3 separate regions of the Homo sapiens genome follow, and all the other regions are reported to be linked to region 1. The links are microRNA targets in miRTarBase. Many come from high-throughput screens and were not tested one by one. Region 1 holds a microRNA gene; each other region holds the end of a gene's coding sequence.

Region 1 (4,244 bases):
ATTCAGGAATAACTTCTTTTGTGGTAGAGAATTTTTATTTCAGAGTATAGACACTGTTTGTGCTGGGTTTCTTAATTTTACTGGATATCATCATTTTCTTGGGCTGTTTGATCAAGTTTGATTTTCCCAGTGCAACATTTCTGAGAGTAAATATGGTCTGCTTAATAAAATATGTTCTAAAGCCAGATAAGTGCTTTCCAGCAAGTACAATTTTCCTTCCAGCAAGTATAATACCTGGTTTATAAGCATTACATATATTAATATTATTATTTTGTCAGATAGATATAATAAAAGTTTAATATTTCAATCTTTTATGGTAAGTGCTATTTATATACTGTTTAAGAAAGAGGCACCCATCATGACAATAATGTTCTATATTTTCCTATGAAAGTCTTGTTTTATATTTCACATTTAGGTTTTGATGGTCCTTAAATATAAGATTTTTATACATGATATTATGTATGGATTTAGGTTAATTTATTTTTATATGGATAGCCAATTGACCCAGAACCACTTATCAAAAAGACATCCTTTATACATTGAATTGCAATAGTGTTTTATCAAAACCAGCTAAGTATTTTTGAGTGAGTGTATTTCTGAACTCTCTAATTTGTTTCATTTGTTTACCTTTTGTTGTATTATTTCCTCACCATCTTAATTATTTTTAGCCTTATAAAAGCTTTGATATTTGGTAGTATAAGTTTTCCTGTTTAGTTTTTCTTCTGTAATATTTTCTTGACTATATAAAGTCCTTGCATTTCTATGTACATTTTAGAATAAAACTGTCAATTTGCACAAAATAACAGGCTGGGATTTGGATAGAGATTATGTTGATTTGAGGGAGATTGGCATTTTATCAATATTGTGTCTTTCAGTCAATATACAGAGTATATCTATTTAGTTATTTTGATATTAATTTTTCTCACCAATGTTTTATGGTCCTTAAGGAAAAAGCCTTGCAATGTTTCTATATATGTGATCCTAGGTAGTGGACCCTTTTAGATGTTATTATAAATGATTTTGCTTTTTAATTAAATTTCATTTTTCAGTTATTTCTAGTATAAAGAAATGGAGGTGACTGATTATTGGAAACATTTATTTGTAAATTTTCTTATTTTTAATTTTTTTGTAGATTCTTGTAAATTTTCTGCAGAAAATTTATATTTTTTTCTGGCTTTATTGAACTGCTTTGAAACTCCAGTGAAATGTTGAATAAAAGTGCTGATAATTGATATTATTTCCTTATCCTTGTTCAATTGCATTAAAACTTTACCATTAACTATATATTTTTAGTAGACCTCTTTATCAGATTAGGAAAATACACTCCTGTTCCTAACTTACTGAATTAAACAAATCATGAACAAGTGTAGAATCTTATTAAGAGCTTTTTTATTGAATATACTAAAATCATCAAATGGGTTTTCTCTTTTATTAACAGATGTAAAATTTTACTAAATGCTTTTTTCCACATTCCTTTGAAATATTCATAAAGTTTTTCTATTTTTTCTAATTTGATGAATTACACTGATTGATTTTTAAAATATTAAACCAAACTTCCAATCCTGGCAAAAACTCCAATTAGTTTTATATAAAACCTATGATTTTTAAATACACTACTAGGTGGAATTTGATAATATTTTGGGTAGGATTTTTCCATCTAGATTAATGAAATATATTGGGCTATACTTTTCCAGTCCTACATTGTTATTGTAAGGTTTGGGCATCAGGGTTATGCTGGCCTCGTAAATTAAGAAATTTTTCCCTCTGTTTTCTGTTTTCTGGATAATTTTTTGTTAGAATGTATTTTTTTCTCTTCATTACATGTTTGAAAGAATTTTCCAGAGATGTCATCTAGGTCTAAAGATTTCTTTGTAAGAAAAGCTTAAAATTACATGTTTTTAGTAGATATTGGAGTGTTCATATTTTTTATTTTTGTGAATTATTACTTGTGGTTTTTCAAGTAATTTGTCCTTTTTTTCCAAATTACCAGCATCAAAGTGTTAGTAATGTCCTTTATTTTCTTCTAAATTCTGTAGGACCTGTAGTTATATATAATGTTAATATATTAATATATCACAATAATATTTTTAAAGTTTTTGCTTTTGTTATTTTTTTTGTGTGCCTATTTTCTAGTGAATTGACTTTTGGGGCTATATTGATTATCTGTTTTTCATCTACTTTCTTTGTACTTGCTCTTCTGCCACTAGCTTTTTGAAATGAAAGATTAGATCAATAATTATCAATATTCTTTCTTGCCCAAAATATTTACTTCAATTCTTATTACATCTTCTTGCTTGTAACTGGGACCCTTTTCTTTTTAGCTGAAAGACCTAGTTTTTATTTCCTTAGCACAGGTCTGTGGTGAAGAATTTTCTCAGCCATTGTTTTCAAAGATATCTTTATTGTACCTTCATTTAAAAACAATTTTTAGGGGAGAAGATGGAGCAAGATGGCTAAATAGAAGTCTCTGCTGGTCGTCCCCTCCACAGGAACACCAAATTGAACAACTATTTAAATAAAAAAGCACCTTCATGAGAACCGAAAATCAGCTTAGGTACCAATTTGGCCACAATGGGTTAGAACACTATTCCATTGTGTTCTTACCCACCATGGCCAAAATTGGGCCTAAGGGGTCCCAATTCCCGGCCTCAGCTCTTGGATGGAATTTCTAGACCTGCCCTGGGCCAGCGGAGAGCCCACTGCCTTAAAAGGAGAGTACCAGCCTGGCAGCATTCACCACAAGCTGACTGGAGTGTCCTTGGGCCTTAGGTGAACATCAGCAGTAACCAGAAAGTACTTGCTGCAAGCCTGGGCTGGTGGTGGCCAAGGGGAGAGACTCTTCTATTTGTGGAAGAAATAGGCAAGAGTGGGAAAGACTTTCTCTTGTGGCTTGGGTGCCAGATCAGCTGCAATAGAATAGAGCACCAGGTAGATTCCTAAGGTTTCTGAGTTCAGGCCCTGGATCCCAGCTGGCATCTCTGGACCCACCCAGGGCTGGGGGAGCTCACTGCCCTGAGGGAAAGGACAAATGCCTGGCTGGCTTTACCATCTGCTGATTGTAGAGCTCTAGGGCCTTGAGTACACACAGATGGTAACTAGGCAGTGGTTACCATGAGCTTTGGGTGAGACCCAGTGCTGTGCTGGCTTCAGATCTGACCCATTGCAGCCCCAGTGATGGTGGCCACAAAGAGGCTTGTGTCACCCCCTCCCCCAGCACCAGGTAGCTCAGCACAGAGAGAGAGAGAGAGACTCTGTTTGAGAGAAAGCGAGGGAAGAAAACAAGAGTCTCTGCTTGGGAATCCAGAGAATTCTTTTGGATTTTAACCAAGACTACCAAGGTAGTACCTCTACAAGTCTGCAAGAGCCACAGGAAAAGCCCTGCCTAATGCAGATATGGCTGCAGTGACCAAAAACTTAGATAACAACACCCAACACTCTTTGAATGCTTGGAAACCTTTCCCAAGAAGGATAGATGCAAAGAAGCCCAAACTGTGAAGAGTACAATAAATACCTAAGTCTTCAATGCCCAGTCACCAATAAACATCCACAAGCATAGAGATCATCCAGGAAAACATGAACTCACCAAATGAACCAAATAAGGCACCAAGGAGAAATCCTGGAGAAACAGCAATATGAGGACTTTTCAGACAGAAAATTCAAAATAGCTGTTTTGAGAAAACTCAAAGAAATTTGGGTAACACAGAGAAGCAATTCAGAATCTTATCAGATAAGTTTAACAAAGAGATTGAAATAATTAAAAATAAGTAAGCAGAAATTGTGGAGTTGAAAAATGCCATAGACATACTGAAGAAATCATCAGAGTATCTAATAGCAGAATTGATCCAGCAGAAGAAAGAATGAGTGAGCCTGAAGACAGACTACATGAAAATGCACAGAGGATCCAAAAGAAAAAATAATAAAAAAAATGAAGCATGCCTACAGGATCTAGAAAACAGCCTGTAAAAGGCGAATCTAAGAGTTACTGGCCTTAATAGGGCAGATAGAAATAGTGGTAGGGATAGAAAATTTATTCAAAGGAATAATAACAGAGAAACCTAAACAAAGATACCAATATTCAAGGAAATCAATCATGCCCCTATTTCCCCTACCCCCAGCCTCTGTAACTACCATTTTCTACTCTCTTCTATGAGTTTAGTTATTTTAAATTCCACATGTAATTGAAGTTATGGAGCATGAAGCAGATTTAGCCCAAATAAGAAAACTTCAAGATATTTAATAAACTC
Region 2 (4,244 bases), not on the chromosome of region 1:
AGACTAGGGAGTCCCTAAAGGCCTCACTCAGACTTACCTTCTAAAAGCTGGGAAAACTGAATTTTTTTTTATCCAAAATGATGTAAGCTAAAGTACAGGTAGTATATTAACTATTTTAAAAACCTAATGCTTTTTCTGCCTTTTCTTCTACCTCATTGAGTTTAAAGAGTTTTTATTAAAATTTTATTAAGAATTATGAGAAATTATTTAAAAATGTACTGAAAAGGCAATTAAAATTCTCTTCTCACAGATATATGTATATTTTACTAGCCTAACTACGTAATTTTTTAATATAAGAAAGATTTCATTTATCATGAGATCTGAAATTAGAGCTTATAATTATTTAAAGTAGTCAATAATGCTAGCGTTAATGATTTTAAATACAGGTTATAGGTTTCTAAATGACATAATTTACATTTTAATATACAGGTGCTTTTAAGAAGAATTAGGCATTAAGGCTGCCCTTAAGAATGTCTTTCATACTTAATTGTCTAGGGAATAAAAAACATAGGATAGAAAATTGGTTGGATTTCCTGTTTTTTGCTCTTCACTTAAAGATAACATTATTCTCTTTATCTCTGCAAAATAATTACAGATACAAGACCTATAACACAGTTTCTTCTTTTCACAGCTTCGGTGTTTACTTGCCTGGCAATAGCATTGGGATTTTATAGATTCTGGAAGTAGTATTAATGCTCATCCTGCTGTGGCTGTTGGCTTCTTAGAACACCAAACCGGGAGAGATTTACTTTGAACATTGTCAGTTGCAGCAAAAATTTACTACACAAGATTATTCGAAGTGTATACGGACTAAAAGAGGAAGTGTTTTAGAATGAGAAGAGATACTGTGTCTTTATTGTGTGTGTGTGAGTGCAGGTGTGTGTCTTTATTATATTGAAAAGCTGTCACTCAGACCTGGTTTGAGATAGAAGAGCATTTTGTCCTTTTGATAGTTAATAGAAATTGAACCAGAGTTTTCTTATGTTTGCTTGAACAGTTGTGTAAATCATACAGGATTTTGTGGGTATTGGTTGAATATTTGTAAACCATTCCCTAGCCTACATATTTATTACTGAATTAACTTTCCTGATAACCATTGCATAATTACATTTTTCTATAAAATGAAAGATTATTACAACAAAGTTGTGTGGGTTTTCAAAGTGACTTACCATATAGTTGGAGATTGATTTCTTTTTGGTAATGAACTAAAACAATAAATTTTAAAATGATAGGCCAGGCGCGGTGGCTCACACCTGTAATCTCAGCACTTTGGGAGGCTGAGGCGGGTGGATCACTTGAGGTCAGGAGTTCTAGACCAGCCTGGCCAACATGGTGAAACCCCGTCTCTGCTAAAAATACAAAAATTAGCCAGGCATGGTGGCACATGCCTGTAATTCCAGCTACTCGGGAGGCTGAGGCAGGAGAATCTTGCAGTGAGCCGAGATAGCACCACTGCACTCCAGCCTGGGTGACAGAGCAAGACTCCATTACCTAAATAAATAAATGTGTGCTTTAGTGCAAATTACAACACTTAATATGAAATCTGTAGAGTTGCTAAATATTGAGCTCTGATTATTACATGTATTTTTTAAATATTTGATACTCAAAAACCAGTTTATCCCTGCTTCTTAATGTAGTTTAAGTTAACCCATCTTAAATTTATTACATAAAACAAAGCTTTTCTTAATGACTTCAATTCAGCAAACATTGATATCTAGTACCTACTCTCAAGAAACTCATAGGAAAATTTAAATTCGTATTTTGTTTTGTTATTAGATATATTTTTTCTTACAAAGTAATATCTATTAGTAAATCATATGTAATTTCAAAGAAATTTTAAAATATCCTTTTCATCTTAGTTCTTCAGTCTTACCCAGATCAAGAAGACAAGACCAGAAAGTAAACATTTTGAGTTCATAATGCCTTGGTAATAGCTATAAAAGTTTGACAATCATTATTCAAAATAGCCTTGTCATTTGTTTAGCTATAAACAGGGAATCTGCAGTATAGAGCAGTCAAGAGATTGGTCCATATGGTCCAGTGAGTGAGAGTCAGGCTTTCCAACTATATTTTCCTCAAAAATCTAACTGCTGGTTTGTTTTCAAAAGAAAAACCTTGACATTATCCTGTTACATTCTGATTCATTTTTATCTCTATTGCCTAAGAGAGTTCTTAGTATATTATAGATTAATTTTCACTGAGTCAATTAATAAGTTACCATATATATTAAAGTCCACTGTAACAAAGTATACTGCATTTGTTCAGTTAACCAATATGACTGCCTGCTATATGCCAAACAGCATGCTAGTCCCTGTGTGCACAGAGATGAACATGGTTTCATTCTCATTGAATTGACAATCTTAAGGAGAGAGACATAAACAAGTAAATTATTGGTTTGTTAAGATTTAAAATATTCTAAAATATTAAGAGGGAATGCGTCTTTCCTCCATGTGAAGGAAGCTCCAGTAGCATAACACTGTCGTCACTCTTCATCCCCTTATCCACTCTGCCCTAGGTAAAGTGACTTGCCCAATTGTAAATCTGGAAGGAGAAACAAGGTGCAATTAGCCCACTTCCTCCCCACTCCTGTTTGGGACCAGCCCATCTGAAGAGACATTCATTCTGTTCTGCTTCTATGGGATCAGGCTCTGCCTCTGCAGGATGAGGCCTGGCCCAGTAGAGCAATGCTTGAGACAGGGTAAATCTGTCCAGTTCTAGAGTTCAGTGATAAGAAGCTTACTGGCCTTAAGATGAAACCCATATTCTCTTGCTGAGCACAGTGGCACACATCTATAGTCCTAGCTGCTTGGGAGGCTGCGGCAGCAGGATTGCTTGAGCCAAGGAGTTCATCAAGGCTAAAGTGTACCATGATCATACCTATAAATAGTCACTGCACTCCAGCCTGGCAACACATGAGACCCTGTCTCCTAAAAAAAAACTTCTCCAATAGTTTTATCAGCAAATAAAGGTGTTTTTTAGGCCTCTATATTAGTTTATTCATTCTTCATCTTAGTTATATTCACAACCCAGAATGGAAAGGAGGTATGCCATTTATTGGACCTTCTCAAGCCCCAACAAATAAATATACTTATTCCCAGGTTATACAGCCACTAAATATTAAATAGATCTGCGTTCTTTCTCATTGTAGGGGTTTAGCAAACAAAGTGCTTTGTATCCAATAACAGAAGAATAGAAATATGCATACCATACCCTGTCCCCATTACTTTTAGATCCTATATCCTTTCCATGAAACTTCATTTTGATGGTGGTTCTGGGGTTCAGGTAAATTTTTGTTTCAGTGATGGAAATATATGAAATAAGGATGAGAGGATTGTGTTTCTATATGCCTTAAAACTATACCTCTATTCCAGCACTTGCACTTCACTATGAAACAGCAATTATACGTATCTTTTTCCTACACTAAACTACAAGTTCTCAGAAGGCCTCTAGACACATGTGAGGTACTTGTTAAACGCCTGTGGAATAAATGATACTCATAAATCTCAGTTGACCTTAATCCAAACTTTTTAATATTTTAAATATTTAATTATGGGTATGCTGAAAATACTGCATTCATACTGAGTGAGCGTAATACACCTTTTAGGCATTTTCTATGAGTGGTAAGAAGCCTCCACAAGGATTAGCTACTTTCACCATGTTTATAGCCACAGTGTAGATCCTAACCTGCCTATCCATACTGCTTTGGTGACAAAATAGGCCAGGCAAGAGTATGTAAGGACTTGGCAAGAGTCAGGAAAAACCCTCACCTATTGGAAAAACAATTAAAAGCTTATAATGTTGTCAAACTTGAAGAATTTGGATATGTAACACTTGTTTATTTTTTAAGTATTTTTTAATATTTAAAAAAAGGGCAGTGGGAAAGGCTGTAGTCATTATCACTGAAACTACTGATTGCTATTTTGAAAAAAAATAGCTATCATTGACTATATGAGGGCAAATATGCTAAATAACATATATGTGCTCACCTATTTTCACAGCTCTCCTCTTAGGTAGATGGTATCCTCATTTTACAGCTGAAGAAACAAGTTTAGCCAAGTGAAGTAACTTGTCCACAGTCCCCCAGCAAGTAAGTCACAGGGACTCAAGTCTTTAACTCCAAATCTCACCCTCTCATGCTGTCACTCAATATACTAGTAGGGTTCAACCTGAGTACTCTTTCTCATGAGATGGACAATCTACTAAGTCATAGGAACAAAATAACTTAAATCTCTTTAATAACCTTT
Region 3 (4,244 bases), not on the chromosome of region 1:
CATCCAGTGCTACAAGCAGGGACTGCAAGCTCCCTGAATCGCAGAGGAAACCGTGGCCTTGCCCAGCTCAGAGGGGACGGGGACTAGGTGAGAGGGCAGTTGTGCCAGGGCGGCCGCCTGGACCCCACGTGCCCTCGGGGTCGACGGAGACTCCGAGGCCCACAATCTGACCTGTGACAGCACCCCCACCCACGATGGCCTGAAAGCGAGGGGGTCCCAGCCGCCCGTGTGTGGCCGGTCTGGGGAGGGGCTGTGGTGGGCGCACGCACAGCTGTCCCGCGGTCCTCTCAAAGTCCTTTATTGTACAATGTCATCTGTTTCGGGGTCGGGGAAGGACTAACAGGTACACAGCGAAATAGATAAATATGCCAAGCTCTTTTCTTTTTAAATCAGGCATTTATAAACAAGAAAGCATACATTAATTACATAAAAATAGTTTCCGAGTAGCAGAGTAAGCATCATACTGTCGTTAGCAGCAGCGTGGGGCACGGGCAGGGGCGGGGGTCTGGGTGATGTTAAAGGTAGAGATGGAGCTTTTTCCTTAATTGAAAAAAAAAAGTCATTTGTGACTCCTGACTTAAAGCGAGAACGAACATCTCCCTGGACCCTGGTGGGCTGAGGGAGGGGTGGGGGGGCCGGGGTTCGGACCCACAGGGAGGAGGGGGTGGGGGGGGGGCCGGGGTTCGGACCCACAGGGAGGAGGGGGTGGGGGGGGCCGGGGATCGGACCCACAGGGAGGAGGGGGTGGGGGGGCCGGGGTTCGGACCCACAGGGAGGAGGGGGTGGGGGGGCCGGGGTTCGGACCCACAGGGAGGAGGAGGTGGGGGGGGCCGGGGCTCAGACCCACAGGGAGGAGGGGGTCACATGGGAAACGCACATGGGTTTCTCCGTCTCCCCTGCCCCCCGGCAGGAAAGCATTTTTTTTTTCCTCAGTTAAAAACAGCCCAGAAAACAAGACAACTCTCAGGTAAGAAAAGAGTTTCTGAAAAAGGACCCAGCATATACATGTATAATACAACGGTGAAAAAGGAAAAAGTATTTACAGGTGAACTGTTTTTACATTGGCTAGTTCTGTACGAAAAGCAGACATTACGTGTATGAGTTAGCTGCTCCAGAGATATGAATGTTATTGCTGTTGTTTTTCCCTTCGTTAAAAATCTTCTTTCAGTATAGAAATATAATGAGAATTAAACTGAATACACAATCACTTAGATGAAGGGCCTCACACACAGAGGAGTCAGCAGCCCACACAGCGGACACCTCTTCCCCCTTCTGCTGAAAAGAAACGGACTCGCACCTGTGCCAAGGGGAGCCAGGCGTGCACCCCTCGGGGCCTGGGACCCCTCAGTCCAGAGCAGCCCTGCAGCCACAGCTGCCCCCTCAGGCCCCTGACAGTGGAAGTGACCCTGGTGAGCCGAGGCAAGAGCTGTGGGAACTGCCTGGGAGGGTCCCGAGCTCGCCTGCCCACGTCCGGGTCCCACTGACCGCACGGGCCTGGCAGCTGCAGGAAAGGGTGGGCCCAGGTGACACTGGCTGGACCCTCCCAGAGCCGAAGTGGGGAAGGGCTGCCACTGCAGATACAGCGCTTTCCGTTTGGGGCAAGATGGGGCGGTGGAGGCGTGGACCCAACGGTGACCGTCGGGATGGAGCAAGGGCAAGGAGAGGCTCTGGCCCAGACACAGCTTGGAAAAGCTCATCTCCCTCTGGGGTCTAAAAACTCAAAGCAAACGGAGCAAGCCTGGCGGCCCTGGGGATGGGGCAGGGCCTCTACCTCACTGTGATCTTCGACCTGGCGACACAGGACAGCCACACAGAAGCACGCCAACACACTTAAAGCTTTGCTCCAACTAAATCATTTAGTTTCCCTTGAAGAAATAACTGAAAAAAAAAACAACTCTGGTAAAACAAGGCTAAAAACAGCATTCTGCATGTTGCATAACAAAACCGACCCTTTACAAGACACGGTAATAATGCCCGCTGACGGATCTACCTACGGCAGAGGTGTGGAATCCATGCACACAGAACAACCGCAAAGAAAACAAAAGCAAAGAAAATTCCAAACAAACGCTGCATATACATGATGTCCCTTTTGCATTGCACTTTAGAAGGGGTGGGGGGCTTCAGCAGCAACCAAGACCCCCCTCAGTAAACCAAGGGCAAAACCCCGCAGGCAATTCCGCCACCCAGATGCGAGGGCTCAGCAGTCTCTGGTCTTTGCTCGTCACTGCCCCGAGGTCGTCTGTACCTGGGCAAGTAACCTCCACCTTCTGTGAGCGCGTGCAGCTGCCGCGGGTGTTAGAACGGATTCAAGCAAAGAACTCCTGTAAGATCTTCTTATGTAAATAAATACCGTAACTGTAGGATAGGTAGCCGCCTCTTGTCTACTGGGAAATCATTTTTCAAGCTTGGGCATAAGAAACCTTATACAATTTGCATAAACAGGTGAGAGTAAACGAGATTATTTGGAATAAATGCAAGGAACTTATTCTGAGAGTGGCAGATTCAGTCGCTACTGAAGACAGATATCTTGGGGGTAAAAAGACACGAGTCAGGATTTGCTGTACAAGATGCTGGAAGGCACAGAACGACCCCCGAAGTTCAGTTTTTGCATTTTCGTTTTCTTGTGATTCCCTTGTTCAACCAAGCACCAGAGGGGGTTTCTAAGCACTCGAGCACTTCGGATTTGACTGCTCTATAAATCGGTAAAAACCTCAGTTCACTGGGGAATAGAAAGAGAAGGGAAGGTTGTGGACAAAGTGCAGTTCTAAATATACGTTTAAATGAACGAACAAAAAAAAAGAAAGAAAAATTGAAATAATGCTCTTTTGTTCCAATGCTGCAGCCTCAGTCCCAAAATGAAGGGAGCGACGTTTGCCGAACTGAAAAGGGTCGCCCGGTCAGGCGGCACGTGTGCCCGGAGGGGCTGAGGGCGTGACCGCCAGCCACGGTCACCACCCGACGCAGGTCAGTGCCTCGTGGTGGAGGAGCGTGGGCAGAATCACGGGGTGCAGAGGAGCCGAAGACCGTCCCCTCAGCTCCGGGGCAGCTCCTGTGCGGCTCTGCACTTCCTGGTACCCGTGGGGACAGCGCTGGCATCGACGGCGGCGTGGCGGGCGGGGTAGGCGGCAGTAAGGCGGGCAGTGTTCGAGCTCATCTCGCACGCGGCACTGTCCCTGCTCTCCCTGGCAGCAGCAGGAAGACCTGGGTCCTTGTCGCTGAAAAAATAGACTCTGAAGAAAAACCCCTGCTGTCCTCACGCAGCCGCGGGCAGATGAGCTGTGATGGCTTCCCCGGGTGGGGAGGGTGGGGCGGCCGCCACCCCCACTCCGTTGCGGGTCTTCAGATGGCGTCATGTGTTGGGGCTTTTAGAAGTTAGTCATTTAAAAATGTGTTGATTTTCTGAATTTCAAGTCTCCTTACTGGTTTTAAATAGCTTATAACAAAAGTGTAAATGTTAGAATGTTCCAGCAAGCAGAGGACCAGCAGGCCGCCGAGCTGGCCCCGTCTCCAGCTGTAGTTGGGGGACGCGGCTTACTCACTTGAACTTGGCCAGTAGAAAATTTTGCAGTGGGTTCCAAAACTACATGGTTACAAACACTCGCTTGGTAATAGGCACGGTAAGACGTTGTGCTGTGTGGGCTGCAGGGGCGGAGCCGGGCGGAGCTGCACCGCCCAGCCGCGCCCCCCTGCACCCGCGTTGTCGGCGGCGCTGCGGCGGCAGGCACGGAATCTACGGCTCCAGCTCCGCAGCGCCCTCGCTGCCCGCAGCCTCGGGGCGGGCCCGCGGCCACAGCTGTTCCTGCAGCTCCTTCACCACCTTCTCCAGGTGCTCCCGGGCCTCGCGCTCCCGCAGCAGGTCGGCCCGCAGCTGCTCCCGGTCCGCCTCCGCGTGCTGCAGCTTCACCTGCAGGTCTTCGATCTGAAAGGGAGCCGAGTGGTCAGCGGCGCCTGCTCGCTGCCCTGCCCCGGCCCGACGCTGCTTCCCCCACCCGAGGCTCCTGCGCCGCTCCCTGTCCCTCCCCAGTGCCGCGTGCCGGCCCCTCCTCCACCTGCTAGGACACAGGCTCACGAGACGCAGGGCCCAGCAACCACCCACCCTGTGCCCGTCGGGGGGGCACGCACGGAACGTGGTCCCGGGCCTGGCTTCTGCTCCAAGGCCTTTCCGGCTGGGCAGGACTGGCCACCGGGGCCCACGGCGGCTCCACGCCCACCGTGCTGCGTGCCTCAGTCTCCCCACCCGCATA

Evidence for each region. Region 1 holds the annotated microRNA hsa-miR-588 (UUGGCCACAAUGGGUUAGAAC, at 2,563-2,583, shown strand). A microRNA usually pairs through its seed, bases 2 to 8, with sites in the 3' UTR of a target mRNA and lowers its output. Matches are read on the target gene's strand: a 7mer-m8 pairs with bases 2 to 8, a 7mer-A1 pairs with bases 2 to 7 and ends in A, and an 8mer does both.
Region 2: miRTarBase lists CCDC90B as a target of hsa-miR-588. Seed matches in the 3' UTR shown: 7mer-A1 at 1,322-1,328.
Region 3: the mRNA of SKI is a reported target of hsa-miR-588. Seed matches in the 3' UTR shown: 7mer-A1 at 3,546-3,552.

Annotation. Positions count from the first base shown.
Region 1 is chr6:126,482,084-126,486,327 of GRCh38, forward strand. MIR588 (microRNA 588) reads left to right here and starts at 2,548; the gene lies at 2,548-2,630. It also overlaps a transcript of CENPW not described here.
Region 2 is chr11:83,258,354-83,262,597 of GRCh38, reverse strand. It overlaps CCDC90B (coiled-coil domain containing 90B), which reads left to right. Exons shown (of 9, transcript NM_021825.5): 9 at 632-3,517. The coding sequence ends at 687. It also overlaps a transcript of ANKRD42 not described here. Among named protein-coding and RNA genes, the nearest start is that of CCDC90B-AS1, 26 kb to the left of the region's middle.
Region 3 is chr1:2,306,252-2,310,495 of GRCh38, reverse strand. SKI (SKI proto-oncogene) reads right to left here. Exons shown (of 7, transcript NM_003036.4): 7 at 283-3,919. The coding sequence ends at 3,731. Among named protein-coding and RNA genes, the nearest start is that of SKI, 80 kb to the right of the region's middle. RefSeq lists an enhancer at 3,209-3,842.